Regions from separate parts of the Homo sapiens genome. Here regions 2 and 3 are each linked to region 1. Evidence: fine-mapped expression QTL. A gene starts in region 1. Each other region holds a variant in brackets. All regions are shown on one strand. Distances are from middle to middle.

Evidence for each region. PIP is the estimated chance that this variant, and not a neighbour inherited with it, causes the effect. A credible set is the group of variants that fine-mapping cannot tell apart.
Region 2: its variant is the best candidate, but not a certain one, in a credible set for the expression of STOML1 in subcutaneous fat (FUSION, PIP 0.74).
Region 3: its variant is the best candidate, but not a certain one, in a credible set for the expression of STOML1 in whole blood (Lepik 2017, PIP 0.56).

Annotation. Positions count from the first base shown.
Region 1 is chr15:73,990,290-73,995,289 of GRCh38, forward strand. It overlaps STOML1 (stomatin like 1), which reads right to left and starts at 2,006. Exons shown (of 7, transcript NM_004809.5): 1 at 1,802-2,006; 2 at 62-168. The coding sequence starts at 1,934. PML (PML nuclear body scaffold) reads left to right here and starts at 4,427. Exons shown (of 9, transcript NM_033238.3): 1 at 4,427-4,652. The coding sequence starts at 4,524. RefSeq lists enhancers at 1,283-1,412, 1,473-1,542, 4,840-5,000 and a silencer at 1,673-2,232.
Region 2 is chr15:74,274,069-74,279,396 of GRCh38, forward strand. All of the region lies in intron 7 of CCDC33 (coiled-coil domain containing 33), which reads left to right. Among named protein-coding and RNA genes, the nearest start is that of CCDC33, 40 kb to the left of the region's middle. RefSeq lists enhancers at 2,625-3,349, 3,350-4,074. The variant GTGTC/G (reference allele first, on the strand shown) is at 2,882.
Region 3 is chr15:73,903,217-73,908,544 of GRCh38, forward strand. It overlaps a transcript of TBC1D21 not described here. Among named protein-coding and RNA genes, the nearest start is that of LOXL1, 21 kb to the right of the region's middle. RefSeq lists a silencer at 5,168-5,287. The variant C/T (reference allele first, on the strand shown) is at 2,677.

The DNA of each region.
Region 1 (5,000 bases):
ATCAATGCCAAAGCTCTCAGTGTGGCCCAACCACCCTGGGGGCTGACCCAGCCAGCCTTACCTTCAGGGCAAACCAGCCAGAAATGGGGAAGGTGACCAACAGCAGCAAGAACCCCAGGAAACTGATGAGGCCATGACAGAGGCAGGAGGGCCAGCTCTGGGGTACATCTGCAGGTGAGAGCAGAGGTGGTCAACTGGACCTGCACGACAGCTGCCAAGCGGAGTGAACTTGGGCAAGTGTACCTTACGCCCACCTTCCCCTCGAGAGGCTCCTTCCTTCTCAGGGCTCTCAATCTGGCTCCTTGCCTAATATTCCCGTATCTTTGGGCAGCTGCAAGTTAGGGTCTGTTCCCTCCTCCCATACATCAACACTCATTTGTCCCAAGTCCAACAACCCTCACAAGGCCTTATTCTCTGCTAGGCAACAGCCATTCAATCTCAGAATCCAGTCCGCGTGATGATGCTCTCCTCACTGGACTGAGTAGGGGTCAATCCTCTCGTTTAATTTATATTGCCTACCCATACCTGGCATGGAGCCAGGAGCACCTGGGCATCTGTAAACATGCACTGAATACTGCTGGCAAAACACATTCCTCCTATACCATCAGCCCCAGAAGTGTGCTTTCCAGGAGTCCTTATGAAGATGATGCCTTAGCCTACAGGGATAAATCATAAATAGCTTATCAACGGGAGCCACAGATGAGGAATTAGATTATTATTTTCTATTCCACACCCAACTTTAATGCCTTAATGACCATTAAAAAATGCCTATTTCACGAGATGGCGCCACTGCACTCCAGCCTGGGGGACAGAGCGAGACTCCATCTCAAAAAAACAACAAACAACAAAAAACAAAAACAAAAAAAAACCCTGCCTATTTCAATTCAAGAAAATTGTTAGGGGTCGGGGTCAGGGGCAGGGCTAGAAAGATGAGGCTTATCCAAGCCAAATGTCCTGGCCCCTGGAGATTCAGGAGCCCAAGTTGGGAGCAAAGCCGAGACAGCTCCAGAATCTGGGATGAGGTTATTTGCCGCTTTCCTCCCAACCCTGGACAGGAAGCAGTCGGGAGCCCTGCTCCATTCTTCCAGGAAGCCCTGCCCTCTGGGCTAAGCCCCAGAGCACTGAGGCTCCACTTTGTGCCTGGCTCTGATCCACCAGGCCTCTCAAGAGACTTCTGGATAGGGAGAGCTTTCAGGACAGGAAGGCCAGGGAGGGATCAAATCCAAGGTTAGGCGGTTAGGCTGAACAGCGTGGGATCTGGCCTGTAGGCCAAAGGAGCCACAGAAGACTTTGAGGGCAAGACAGAAGCAGGGCAGATCCAACAGGCAGCTGAGGACCTGTCATTTTGGCCTGCACATCCAGGAGATGCCTAGTTCCCGGGCTTCTAGAGGTGCCCCCTAGGGCGAAAATTCTTCCATTTCCCTGCAGCAGGTGCCTTTAGGGTGCTGGTGGCCTCCTCTGCCTAGACCTCGGTTTCTTCTATGCGAAATAGAAACCTGAAACGTCTTCCCAGGCCTAAAGGGCTGATAAGAGCCGAGGACAAATGTGGTGAGGTGAGGTTTTGGAAGATAGGAGCAACGCTGGCTGGCTCTGGGGCCAAAGCCCCATGACCCTAGGGAGGGCGGATCGGCGCTAGCACCAGGCGCCGGGTCCAGCCCCCTCTCCACATCGTATCCCTTTCTCAGTCCCCCCTCGTAGGGTGCGACGGCACCGGGCCGGCCGACTCCTCGGAGGCAGAGATTCGGGCCTGGGGGTTGCCGGCCGGTCCCCCCCGGCTCCGCCGTGCCAGGCGGCCACTCACCGGCCCCTGTCCCCACGCCGCCCCGCTCCGGGGACAAGCAGCCCTTCTGCGAGCCCAGAAAGCCGAAGCTCGACTGCTGGAAGCGGTCAAAATCACCCAGGGGCAGCGCCCGGTACCCAGACCTGCCGAGCATGGCTTTTGACAGGAGACACGCCCCGCGCCTCCGCGCGGCGCCCTCCCTGGCCAGTGGGCCCTACGCGGCCCCGCCCTCCTGGCTGCTGCTTCCGGCTTCACCCGCGCGGCCACCCGCGGCGGCGCGGGCGCAGGAAGAGGAGGCCGGCCGGGGCCCGCTTCCGCCGTCGCATGGCTCCCCCTGCGCTGGGAGGACCGAACTGCAGCCCAGGGCTACTGGGTGTGATCGGCGTTCCTCGGACCCCGCTGGGGTCATCGCCTCCTCCCCTCTTCTCCTACTCAGCCCTAGAAAAGCTGGAGGGGAAGCTGGGCACGGTGGCTCACTCCTATAATCCATCAATTTGGGAGACTCAGGCAGGAGGATCGCTTGAGGCCAGGAATTCAGGACCATCCTGAGCAACATAGTGAGAGCCCATCTCTACAAAAAATTTTTAAAAATTAGCCTGGCGTGGGATGCCTGCCTGTGGTCCCAGCCACTTGGGAGGCTGAGGCGGGAGGATCTCTTGAGTCCAGGAGTTTGAGGCTGCAGTGAGCTATGATCGTGCCACTGCACTGCAGTCGGAGCGAGAGAGCAAGATCTCATCAGGGTTTACAGGAAGCCAATCTTCTCCAGGATCAAGGACATGCTATATCAGCCTTCTCAGCACTCCTTCTCTCACACTGGAGGCAGGACATGCCATATCTGGACTTTGGGTTTCTCTGGGACATAGTCTGCAAATTATTCCTCTTTGTGAACCCACAGCCCAGCAAGCAGGGACTGGCATAGGGCAGGTCTCAATACTTATTTGTTAAGTAATGGCCTGGCCAGGTCACCGTGATCAAGGTGGAGTAGGAAGGCCTGAACTTTGGCACAAAAAGAAAGAAGTTTCACATGCAGACTTCGGGGAGCATGGGAGTGTAAGGAAGAAGGGGATAGCACAGAGCTACATGAGGGCAGGGGCCCCAGAGCACCACAGAGGTGAGGCCCTCAGTCCTGCAGGTCCAGAAAGAGCATGCCCCTTGATCCAGGTACCTGGAATTAACTTGCCTCTCCAGGGCTTGAGAAAACCTGAATGCAACTCGTGAATTTCCTTTGAGAAGTGTTAACTTCCAACAGGACTTTGGGGTAGTCTGGGAGCAGGCTATCTTCCAAAGCAAGCAAAGAAATGAATAAAGCTTCCCCAGCTCTGCCTCCTCAGCCAATCGCCTCTGGCCTCCGAAGCCCCATCCTGCCATAGCCCACTTCCAGGTCCCTTGTGCAGATGGCTGCCCACCATATTTGGCTTTCATGGACTGATTCTCTAAAGGCCTGGGAGTACTGACCAGGCTGGAGGGAAGGGCAGGCTCCTGAGGCCTTACAGTCCCTAGGAAGTTGCGTATCTGCCCAACCCCTGCTCTCCACCCTGCAGACTGTAAGGTTTACAAGAGCCAGGCCCTATCATCATCCTTTCTAGTCTGTTTCTAAGTTGGAACAGAGTACGGAATGGGTACACAGGAGCCAGCACAGTGGTTGCGATGGTTTAAGTTTGAAGCCGGGGCGCTGACCCAGTGAGGTCACCTGGAACTGTGCCCCTTTCCCCTTACCAGCTGGGAGTCTGACATGCTTTTCCATTGGCGAAGACCTAGCTGGCTCTCCCCTCACCCTCTTCATACCCGCTCTCCAGCTCTCCCCCTCCCTCCTGCCCCCACCACCTCAGATCCACCAGCCTTTCCAGCTGTCACTCAAGGCATCATCCTGCTCCCTCACCTCCAGTCACTGGCTTCCCAGGATCTCTGAATCAAGTCCCTCCTCTGCATCCCACAGCCACTGTCCTAGACCAGGGCACCTGCTCCTAGGTTGTCAGAGTGACTGTCCCATCATGCACAGCTGATCGTGTTGTTCCCTGGTTCCAAATCCTTCAGCAACTTCCCATCACTCACAGAACTGGTTCAATCTCCTCAGCTAGGATCTTGTCCTAGCACACTCCTTGGGTATCATTTCTCATGAATTCCCTCTTAAATCTGAAAATGGCCAAAATTAGTTCCCAAACAGGCTTTTGCAAGAGCTATCTTTTCTGTTTCAAGTGTCCCCCGTACCCCACCACCTACAACCCTAAATCCCTGGTGAATTTCCACTGCTTTTGCAGGTCCCAGCTGTGGGCTCTCCTTTCCAGAATGTCTCCGTTTGCAGGCTTGCTCTTCCATTACATCTACGGCTCTTAGAAAGCAGGGGCTGCGTGTGGCTCATCTTTGTACGCCCAGCTCCCGGCAGGACGTGGCACGAAGCAGTGCCAGTGTGAACGGATGAATGGATCAAAGCCGGGAGCAGGGCTGCCCCCCTGCAGCTCTGCCCTACCTCTCCCGCTTTACCGTAAGTCAGCGGTAGGTCTGCAGCTCTCCGCCTCTACCTCCTCCCCGCTCTGGGCGTGTCTTTAAAACCCACAGTCGGCCTCTCTGCCCCCTAGAACCGCCCCCAGCTTCTGTCTCACTTCCTCTCCAGAGGCGGGCCCTGAGCCGGCACCTCCCCTTTCGGACAGCTCAAGGGACTCAGCCAACTGGCTCACGCCTCCCCTTCAGCTTCTCTTCACGCACTCCAAGATCTAAACCGAGAATCGAAACTAAGCTGGGGTCCATGGAGCCTGCACCCGCCCGATCTCCGAGGCCCCAGCAGGACCCCGCCCGGCCCCAGGAGCCCACCATGCCTCCCCCCGAGACCCCCTCTGAAGGCCGCCAGCCCAGCCCCAGCCCCAGCCCTACAGAGGTACTATTGGGTTAGGGGATGATGGGGTTAAGCTTTGTTGGTTTGCTGTGGTGGGGAGAGGCGGGAAGAGAGGGTCTAACGGAGGATTTGGTCAAGTACCCTAGAGAGTGACACAAAGCGGGAAGTCCAGACACCAGGGTCCTGACCGTCTCGGGTGGGGCAGGGAAGGGAGGGTAGGATAGAGTAGAAAAGAGGACACGGAGGAGTTGGGGCGGCCTCGCTGGGCTGCGGTTTCTCCACTGAGCAGTTGGGCAAGGTGAGAAGGGTCAGTGGCCTCCGGGCCTGGGCCCTTCCGCCCACCCTCGAGCCCTGCCTCAACTTTGCCTCAGATGCAGGACTTCAGATTAG
Region 2 (5,328 bases), 280 kb after region 1:
ACCTGTCCACCTCGGCCTCCCAAAGTGCTGGAATTACAGGCATGAGCCACTGCACTCAGCCGGCAGTCTTGAATTTTTAACAGAGGAAGGGTTGGTACAGGTTGGACACAGCAATAGCACAAGTGTGAGGTGGAGACAGGCAGGCTATGACCCATGTCAGGGCAGACAGGAGGGCTGTGTGTTTGAGTATGAGGTTGGGGGCGGGTGCACGCACAGAACATGGCTGGGTTCAGGGGAATAGCCAGATTGGTCTCTTCTCATGATCTGCGCTTCACTGCCAGCTTGCCCTACACGATGGTCCCAACATTCCTAGGGGCCTTGGGGGACAGAGGGATTTTTGGAGGTCCCTCCTATTGTCTGCCCACCAGTGCTTATGTCTGGCATAGCAAAAATAGAACAAGACACCCCTTTGGAGCCCAGGCTTCATTTAAAGGCAAAGACATTTGAAGAAGGCTCAGACATGGGGTAGAGTGATGGTGGTGGGGAGGAGTGGGACAAAGGGGGACCCTGGGGACAGAGGCTTCAAACCCAAACCAATCCTTTGCCTGATTTCCCTAGAGTTACCTCACACATGGCCCTGCATTTGCCCAGAAAATTAAGAACCAATCAGCAGGCTGTCCCAAGGGGCAAGAGGCACTGCCTGCTTTAATGAGTGTGCCCCCTCCCACCCCCAGGCTTTCTCTGGCTGCCTTTGCTGCCTAACTAGTCTGGGTAGGAGAGGTGCCACTCACTACAGAGACTTGTTCCCAGTGCCTTTTGCATGTGTGGGACCCGGTCCAGCAATGGCAGGACACCTGTTGAACATCACCCAACCCCATGGCAGCTGGGCCAGGTTGGGAATTTGCTGGCAGCTGGCACAGAGGTGCCCAGGTGCAGCAGTGAGAGAACAGGAGCAGGCTGCTGTGGTAAGGAGGGGTGGGGATTGCCCGGGCAGAGCCATACCTGGAGGGGCACCAGTCAGCAGCGTGAGCTCAGTCTTCACACAGACCCCTGCCCTGTTCCCTTTGAGCGTCAGTCCCCTCATCTCTACACTTGAGGGGGTGGGATTGGACTTGGTAATTTTAGGGCCTGCCCTCTCTGACATCTTGGGGGGCTGTGATTTCTCACCAACTGTCACTGTGCAAAAGCACTGTTTGACCTGGGTTTGACCCCAGCTCTGTAACTTACTGGCTGCATGACCTTTGGTAAGCTGCTCCTTTCTCCAGACTCATTGATTCCAATCTGTTAGGAGAACTCAAAGGATAATCTTTGCAAAGTGTCCAGGCCCAGGGTCCAAGGTAAATGGGTTCCACTCTTAACAGAGCTGTACCTCCCCTAGTGCCAGTGTCCCCTCTGAGGCCAGCCTCACCACTGCCCTTTTCACATCTGGCTCCAAGTAACAGAAACCCCAACTTGGATCGGCTTAAATACTAAGGATATTTATTGTCACACACCACATCAACTCACGACATAGAATGCTGCCAGAATTGGTGGATGCTCAGGCTCAGAAGCATCCTCGAGGTCTCAGGATCTTTCCAACACCCCGAATTACCATCTTCAGCTGGCTAACGGCTCATGGGGGCACTTCATCCAAATAGAATGAAAGACCAGCAGATAAGAGGCAGCCTCTCTTTTTTTTTTTGCGACCAAGTCTCTGTCCCCCAGGCTGGAGTGCAGTGGCGCAATCCTGGCTCACACTGCAACCTCTGCCTCCTGGGTTCAAGCAATTCTCCTGCCTCAGCCTCCCGAGTATCTGGGATTACAGGCGAGCGCCACCATGCCCAGCTAATTTTGTATATTTAGTAGAGATAGGGTTCAACCATGTTAACCAGGCTGATCTTGAACTCCCGACCTCTGGCGATACGCCCACCTTGGCCTCCCAAAGTGCTGGAATTACAGGCCTGAGGCACCGCACCCAGCAGCACCCTCTCTTCTTGTAGGTGGTTTTAAAGAGCAACTGGAAACCAACCTTACCCAGCCATCCCTCAGCAGACCTCCTTCCTGTCTGATTAGCCAGGATTGGGTTACATGCACTTCCCTGAGCCAATCACTAAGGAGGGGTGTGGCTCTGCCTTGCTGGTATAAATGTGGAAGGTTATGGAGGCGGAGCCACCCGAACCCAAGGGCCATCTGCTGGTGATGAGGCAAGGAGGGGCATGGTGGTGGGCTAGGTGGCCCTCAGTGGAGCCTGGTGATGATGGCAAAGGCTGAACTGGTGAGTTAAGGGGTAGATGGCCTGTCGGACTTCACCTGGTCCAGCCTGCTGGAACCAACATAGGGTGGGCCGTGTAAGTTACTCCTACCCCGGCACCTTGGAAGGGGCCCATTGCCCAACAGGCTGCTCCTGTTGTTCTGGTCTCCTACAGAGCTGGAGTGGAGCTCCGGGAAGCCATGTGTGCCCACCACCATCCCCTCCTCTCTCAGCCCCACAGCTGGCCTGTCCCCAAGCTCTCCTGGGGCCCCTTCCATCCCCACAGACCCTGCCCTAGTGCTAGCCTCCCCTCAGGCCCCTGCCATCCATTCTCTGAGGAGCAGCCAGGGCATCCCCTGCCTAGCCCTTCCCCTGGGCCCCCTGTTACTATCACGACAAGGCAAATCCCACTCTCAGCCAGGTCCACAGGCCCTGTGCCCTCCAGCCTCCTGGCTTATGGCTCCAGCTCATACAGGCATTCTGCAGCCCCACTGGACAGCTTGCTGTTCTCCACACCCACACTGCCCCTTCCCACCTCCAGCCTCCACCTCTGCTGCACTCGCAGTCTGGAATGGCCTTCCTCTTCCTTACCTACTGCCCTTGTCCTTCAGGTCCTCCCTGAGGAATGGGGTCAGAAGTCATGGCTTTCTCCTCGCACACCCCAGCTCCCACAACCACAGCTTGCTTAGGACTCTACATGTTTGTGTGTGT[GTGTC/G]TGTCTGTCTGTCTGTCTGTCTGTCCCCTATCCTCCTGGATGATGGTGGGCTACAGGGTCGGGGGCAGAGTCTGGCTCTACAGCACCCCACAGGCATCTGGAATGGAGAAGCCCCCCAGAGTCAACATTTGCTGAGTTCAGTGAAGTTGAACTTACATCTTAATAGCAAAACATCCATTGTCTCCTTTAACCTTACAACAGGCTTTCAAAGTGAGGAGTTTGAGGCATATCCCCATGGGATGATGGGAAAAGTAGGTCCCAAAGAGGAGAAGGGACTTGAAGGCCACACAGCAAGGTTGAGGCAGACCCAGACCCAGAGCCAAGGGGTCCTAGATCCCTAGAGACCCCAGCCCAGCATCTGCTCCCAGCAGCTACTCCTCCAGATGGCGGCCACTATGCCTGGGCAGAGCAGGCAGAGGTGGATGTGGGTGGGCCCAGGGGAAATAAGGCGGTGGGCGTGGAGGGGCCATGGAATGAAGGCTCTGTCCCCAGGGGAAGCAGGTCTGCCTCCATGGCTGGGGGTTAATGGCTTTTCTGAAGATCACAGCTGAGGGTTAATGACATTCCATAATTCCACTACCGCTGTGGCCCTTCCATTAGCATCTGCAGGCGATGCCTGCCTCTCCCCGCCCCCATCCTGCACACACATCAGCCACAGTACCCTCACCAGGGCTCTGGCGTCAGACTGCAGGTCTTCTAACTTTGAGTTCCCACCACTCCTGCCTGCACATGCACAAGACAGGCTGACCCTCCCTCCCCAGTCCTAGGTCTGAAGTGATCTTTCCTAAGTGACTTGCCCTGGGAAACTACTCAGGGAAAGGGCTGTTCCTTATTGGGCCGGCAGCCACTCACCACCTCTGGCTTCATAGGCTCCATTTAGACACATGAATAGGTCCCAGAAAGGGCAGCTAGCGTCTACTAAATAACCCTCTTCCAGGGTAGGAGCAAGGTATGGACGGCAGGGGACTGAGTCACAGGTGCCCCAATGCCTGGCAGACAGTCCCAGCCATGTGGACCCTCCTGCACCCAGGAGAATGGGGTGACTCTGGGAGGGACATGGTTTGGGGATCAATCTTGAAAGATCACTCCCAAGCCCCACAGAAGTCAGAACCAACTTCTCTCACCGGACCTGTTGGCCAAGCTCCCATAAGAAGTGGGATGTTCCCATCATTGCAGTCTCTGTTCAGGTGTCCAGGGCACCCTAGCCCTGCAGTGACTGCAACCCATCTCCCCAGGGGCAGGGGCAGACACAGCTGAGCCTTGGGCTGGGCCTGGACAAACCAGGCCCATTAGTGTGACCGTCATCAGCACCCTGCCACTGTGGGGAAGTGGACCTACACTGATATTTCATGATCCTGCATCAATAACTCCTGGAGCCGCAGTGCATTTGTGCTGACCTTTTCGAGCAATGACTGATTCCTGTGGGGGAGCAGGAGGTGGGAGCGGCTGCTACTGTTGCTGACAGCCCCTGGCTGGGGAACAGAGGCAAGGCAGCCACTTGGTGGGTCTGTAGCAACGACCCGCAGCCCCGCCCTGTGCTGGGACCCTGCAGGGCTGCCTGCTGGGAGTTATGGGCCGATGGCCATCTCCCATCTCCCACCTTCTGGCCTTGGCAGATGCTGGGCCTCCCCCTGGAGTCTCTCCTCATTTCAGGCGTCCTCTGCACAGGGTGTGCTCAGTGCCACTCCACATTTTTGATTGTGCTGTTTTCCCATCCTGAAGACCTTTATCCCTCTCTTCACCCAGCCAGACCTTCCTTCAGAGCCTTTCTCTGGTTCTGCTTCCTTTAAGGAGGCTTTTCTGACCACCCATGGGAATATTTCATATAGCTCTCTTATTGGGCAGTGCTACAGTTAATACTGTCTTGTTTCATTGTTTAAATCATACCCATGTGTGTGCCCTAACTGCTGACCTAGGGTGCCATCAAGTCCCCCGAGTGCCCACTGGCCCACACTGCGGGCACACGGAGCCTCTGTAGTCTGCAGAGATGTCTTGGCCTCTGCAAGGGGCTGGGGAAACTGTGTGGGAAAGAGAGGGGCTGGTGACACAGACAGAGGTCATGTCTAACTTGGCATCTGTGACACCACCAGCCATGGGTGTGAACACAGATACAACACTTTAGGAAAACAGTTTACCAATAATGAATGAGGTGTCCTAAAATACACATGTCCTATAACCCAGCAATTCCATTTTAGGTAGTTGTACTAAGGAAGTAATTTGCGACATGAAGATATGTAGCAGAGAACGTTCAATGCAGTGTTATTACAGGGAAAAATGGGAAGGAAGAAATCAGGGCACTTGGACATGAACTTCATATCCTGAAGTTACTCAAGTCATGGGTAATGAGCTTTCTGTGACTTTGGATCTGCTTAGGTTTTACTGGCAAATGAAAAATGCAGGATGCTAGAATGGTGATTATACACAAAATATACACAGAAAAAAA
Region 3 (5,328 bases), 87 kb before region 1:
CTGCTGCCGCCTCCTGTCCTGGCACCCATGCCTCCGGCTTCTGCATCTCTTCATGAGAGAACTATCTGGCCTTGGACCAAAACTGGCCCACATGGAATATCAGGGGGATTCACACCCCAGGAGCAGCCCTTGAAGGAAGGGCGGGGAGCTGGTGGATACACACCCCAGATTTCCCACCCCTCAATGGGACAAGTCTGAGACCTGTTCTGTACACTCAGAGGGTCCACAGGGGGCTGAACCTCAGTGTTCCACAGCAGTAGCTGCTGGGTAACTCTTATCTACCTTTTTCTCTTCCCTGTCTCACTTCCCTACTCCCTCACATGCTGCCTGGGATCATCTTCCAAACAAACAACTACACCCAAATCCTTGTCAGAAGGCCTGTTTAGTGGGGGCAGGGAACCAACCTAAGGCAACATATTCAATCATGGTACTCTCCTCAATGCCAATAAGAAAAGACCAGGCCCCTTCACTCAGTATTCAAGACCTCAGTGATCCTGCCCTCGGTCTGCCTCTTTGACACCAACTCTTACCTTTTCCAGCCTCAAATGTATATTCTGGGCTGGGCACGGTGGCTCTTGCCTGTAATCCCAGCACTTTGGGAGGCCGAGGGGCTTGAGGTGAGGAGTTCGAGACTGGCCTGGCCAACATGGTGAAACCCCTTCTCTACTAAAAATAAAAAAAGTTAGCTGGGTGTGGTGGTGTATGCCTGTAGTCCTAGCTACACAAGAGGCTGAAGCAGGAGAATCACTTGAACCTGGGAGGTGGAGGTTGCAGTGAGCTGAGATCACGCCACTGCACTCCAGCCTGGGCAACAGAGCGAGACTCCGTCTCAAAAAAATATATATATATATACTCTGGCAACACAAAATTTCTCATCTGCTTTGTGACTTAGCCCAGGCATTTCATCTAGGAAGTCTTCCTTCTAAGTCTAGAGGTCAGTGAGTCCTTGGGCTTCCTGCCCCATCCTAAGGTGAGCACTTCTATGAGTCAGCCACAAGGAAGAACTAACCAGGTTGGAGTGGGCTGTTGGCCCAAAGTCGAGCTCTATAAGGCTACAGTGGGCTGCTCTGTAGCCAGCCATGTGTGCACTCTCCCCAGCCCCCGCAGGCATGCAGGAAGCCCCTTCTTGCCTAGTGGTGTGCTGAAGTCAGCTTGCACTGGCTCAAAAGAATGAAACTTGTGCACCTCTTCCAATTCTGCATTCAGTGGCATTATGCGGGTTGTCTGAAATCGGCTATGGCAAGAGTATTTACACCACAGAAATTGGCAATTGCTACAAATCAGGGGTTTCATTTTCTTCAAAGAGTGACCATGGCCTCCCCTCCCGCCATGTGCCATAATCCTGAGTATGTCTATGGGTTCATAGTACAGGTCCCAGGTCTGAGGCAGGGCAGAATCAGCTTGGGGGAAGGGGTGTTGACTGGCAGCATGGTGCCAAGATAGATGTGGAGCCAGGGGTCAGAGTGCAGCTGGGTGAAGTGGAAACCAAAGGAGGGACGAGAGGAGCTCATGGGACTGGGGGACAAAGGCCAGGGATGTGTGTGTAGAAAAGAGAGAGACTCCAAAAGAAATGGAGAGAGACAGCAAGGAAGAGACACGGAGAGAAGAGTAAGAGAGACATGGAGACACAGACAAAACAAAACACACAGATGGAGGGAGGAAGACAGAGTGAGACAGCAAATAGAGACAGAGGCAGAAACAGAGAGCGAGAGACAGCTTGAGACTGGGAAGAAATGACAGAGTGGAGGAAGCCAAGGGCAAAAATAGAAGAATTTAGCGACAAAAACACAAACTGGAGAGTGACAAACAAAGACCGTAGCAGCAGAGGGGGCCCAGGAGGGTGCAGCCCAGGCCTAGCTGGGGCCCACGGTGCATGAGGCAGCTTGCAAGAGAGGCTCAGGGCCCACTTAGGACAAGGCCTCCCACGCCCTCTAGCCCCAGCCATCATGTGAATACCTCCTTAGGTGTCCATCAACTACTTGAAGATGTGAATGTTTGATTGCTTCTCCAATTTAGGCATTAAATCCCTCAGTAATTCAATAATGCATTGTCCAATTACTCACATGACACGCAACTTTAAATTAGGAAAAAATATTTAGACAATTCAATTGCTAAATGATCTGATTGTTTCTGAAATTCCCTCATAATGCTCCCTTGAGTTATTCTCCCTTCTTAAATCAACCTGAGAAAGGGATGTGCCGACTCAGCAGTCTGTTTCTTGGCTCTACCTGGCTGAATTCAGTACAACCTTTAGATTAGAGTCCCCGGATTCAGGCACTTTACCTTGTCCAGTGGTGTGCTGAAGTCAGCTTGCTGGAAAAAAAAGAAATTTTCACACCTTTTCTTAATTCTGCATTCAGTGACATCATGTTGATAGCTTGAAATTGGCTGTGGTGGGAGTATTTACACCATGGAAATTGGCAACTGCTACAAACCAGGGCATTTTTTTTCTTTAAAGAGCCACCACTGCCTTTATTCACCTCCCATTCTCCCACCAATCTGTGGCCCCCAGGTGGGATAAAACCCTGAGCAGATTTGTGGGTTTACAGCATTTGCTCCAGGGCCCAGCTGGGAGCCTCCCTAAAGGGGCAGAGCAGAATCAGTTGGCTTGGAGGTTTGGGAGAGTCAACTGAGCAGCATAGGACCAAGCTGGGAATTCCAGGGCCCTTCCCTGGC[C/T]TCTGTCCCAGGGATCATTGTGCCTCCCCATCAAGACAGCACAGTCTGGAACAAAGAGCTCCTGCCTGAACATTGGGAGAACTCAGGTATCACTCGGTGTCGGTCAAGGAAACCCAGGCTCTCAGCAAGGGACTGGCTCCTGGTCACCAGCAGGGTGGATGGGATGGGCATGTCTGCTGGGCTTCAGTTTCATGTCCCGTTTTTCTAAGCTGCTCACACTCAAGAGTCCCAGAAAGTTTGTTGTGCTACTTCTAAATAGAGAAAAGTTTTGTCTCCATAAATTTATACTCTCCACTGCCTTCCCAGGAAGCTGAGTTCTGGTCACAGGTGACCCTTTGTGCTGCCATCTTGAAGGAGCTGGGTAGGCAAATTAGGGACAGGAGGGGCTAGGGAAGTGGGAGACGTATGTGGGAGGAGGTCGGGGAGAGGCTGGAGAGAACTATGGAAGAAGGATTTCATGTGTCTCCGTGGGGTATGAGACCATCTTCTGAATCTTCCCACCCAAATTGTCAGTATACTCAACCTTGCTCCCTGATGTCTTTGAGTGAATGGAATCTGGAGTGGAGAGGGTGGTGGCAGTTTGGAAAGAAGGATGAGGGACCAGCCCCACTGGTTACATGTGGAGAGGACAAGGTACACGGAGGAGGAAGGCAGGCCTGGCAGAGCTCAGATATCTGTGGGAGGAGGAGGCAGGTTCTTGCCTCTCTCTTCCTCTGGGAAGCAGCTTGTTTGGGAAATCCAAGCCCAAGTCCATCCAGGGCAAGTGCCTCGATTTTCCCTTGAGAGGAAGAAAAGGGCTTTCCTGACCCAGGAGGAGGAGAAGACTGAGGTCAAGTCAATCAAAGGGACAAAGCTAACCCCTATGCCATCAAGAATGTATGTGCAGTGCTGAGTACTATTTTTTGGATCTGAGTTGTGCTGAGTGTTGGTTTACAGAGCTCCAGAACCCCCAAGTGTAGAATGACTCATTCACCGATGTCATGTGTGTAGAGAAGAGATCTGCAAGCCTGGAAGATTCACCTCTTCAGGCTCTTGTTCTCTGTCCCACCAGCCTAGTAATATGGGCAGGTCTTAACTTTATAAAGAGGCCCCACCAACCACAATTCCATGCAAAGCTTGCTGCAGAGACCCAACTCTGAGGGTAAGGACCCCAGGCCAGACAGCAGACAACTGGGCATCTCTCTTTCTCTCTCATTTCCTCCTCCTCCTTCTCCTCCTCTTCCTCTTCTTCCTCTTCCTCCTCCTGCTCCTCCTCCTCTTTTTTTCCCCCAGTCTGAGCCCTCACTCCCCACCAGCTAACTAGCCCAGAGCAAGCAGCTAAATATAGTTCCTTATTCTTTGACTCGTAGAAATCAGCCACAAACTGTCTGTCAACATGAATTTCTCAGCTCAGTTGTTCTAGCCATGAGCAGCTGCTGCTCCTGATACTTCACCGGGCTGCTCTCAAGTTCATCTTTGGTGGGGTCTGCATGGAAGGAAAACACAAATTTGAGAGGGCAGCTTTAGAAAGTGTGAAACGGGCATAGACTTTGAAATTGGAGAGACAGGAACCAAATCTTAGCTTGACCACTTCCTAGCTGTGTGATCCTCTGCTGGCTCAATTATTGAGCTCTTACTTAGATTCTGGGAGATGCTCTAAGATCTTTCCAATAAATTCTCATTTTTGCTCAGGCTAATGTGAGTTGGGCTTCTGTCACTTGCAAGCTGAATAAGAACTTGCTTCTCAACCCCTTGGGTCCTCTGCTGATGGCCTCTTCCATCCATCCTCACTCACATGTTCCATTCCCACATTTTGTAATCTCTTACCCCTAAAAAGTTCCAAAGCTGTTTTCTTTCTCTTTTACTTTTAAGAAAGATTTTTTTCAAGTGTAACACACTTACTGTATAGTCTCAATTTGTTGGGGTATAGACGTGAAATTGTTTTCTAACTTCCCTGAGCCTCACTGTCTTCATCTGTACAATGGGACTACTATTGCCTGGCTCACAGGACTGCTAGTACGGTCAACCAGGAGCCTAGATGGAAAGCTTCTAGCCCAGGCCTGTAACAGTGGGAGGGCTGGGTAGCTGTCCATTCCTCTCCCTATGTGGAAAGTTATTCTTTACCTATCAAACAGTAGAACAGAGGCTAGAATTATAATGCCTGCCCCCAGAAAGTGGCTTTATTGAGATGTACAAAATATTCTACATTAATTTTTATTTCATTCTCACATTTATTGAGATGAACAAAATCAGTGTTATGGATTGTTATAGACACAGTATCTGTCCCTGTGCCCTGACCCTGACTGTGGGGCTGTCAAATGTGCTTCCTGGGGAACCAGATACACCAGACACACCACACACACACATAAACACACACAGGAACACATGAAGCCAAGCAAATTCAGAGACAATTTGATGAGTGTAACACACACACAGGAGGGTATATGCACATTTGTGAGTGCACTGCAGGCCCATGGCTGGATGAAGCATGGGAAATGGGGGAATCCACAGGGCGCACGTAGCCCGCCAGTCCTGGCTCTCAGCGCTCTCCTTCTGGGCCAGGCCTGGGCCATGCTTGTGTTGAGAGGCTTTGGCGCCCTCTGCTGACTGCGGTCCTCCCTGCAGCCCTCTCCAACCTAGCCAGAGCAGGTGCAGCAGGCCCAGGGAAGCCAG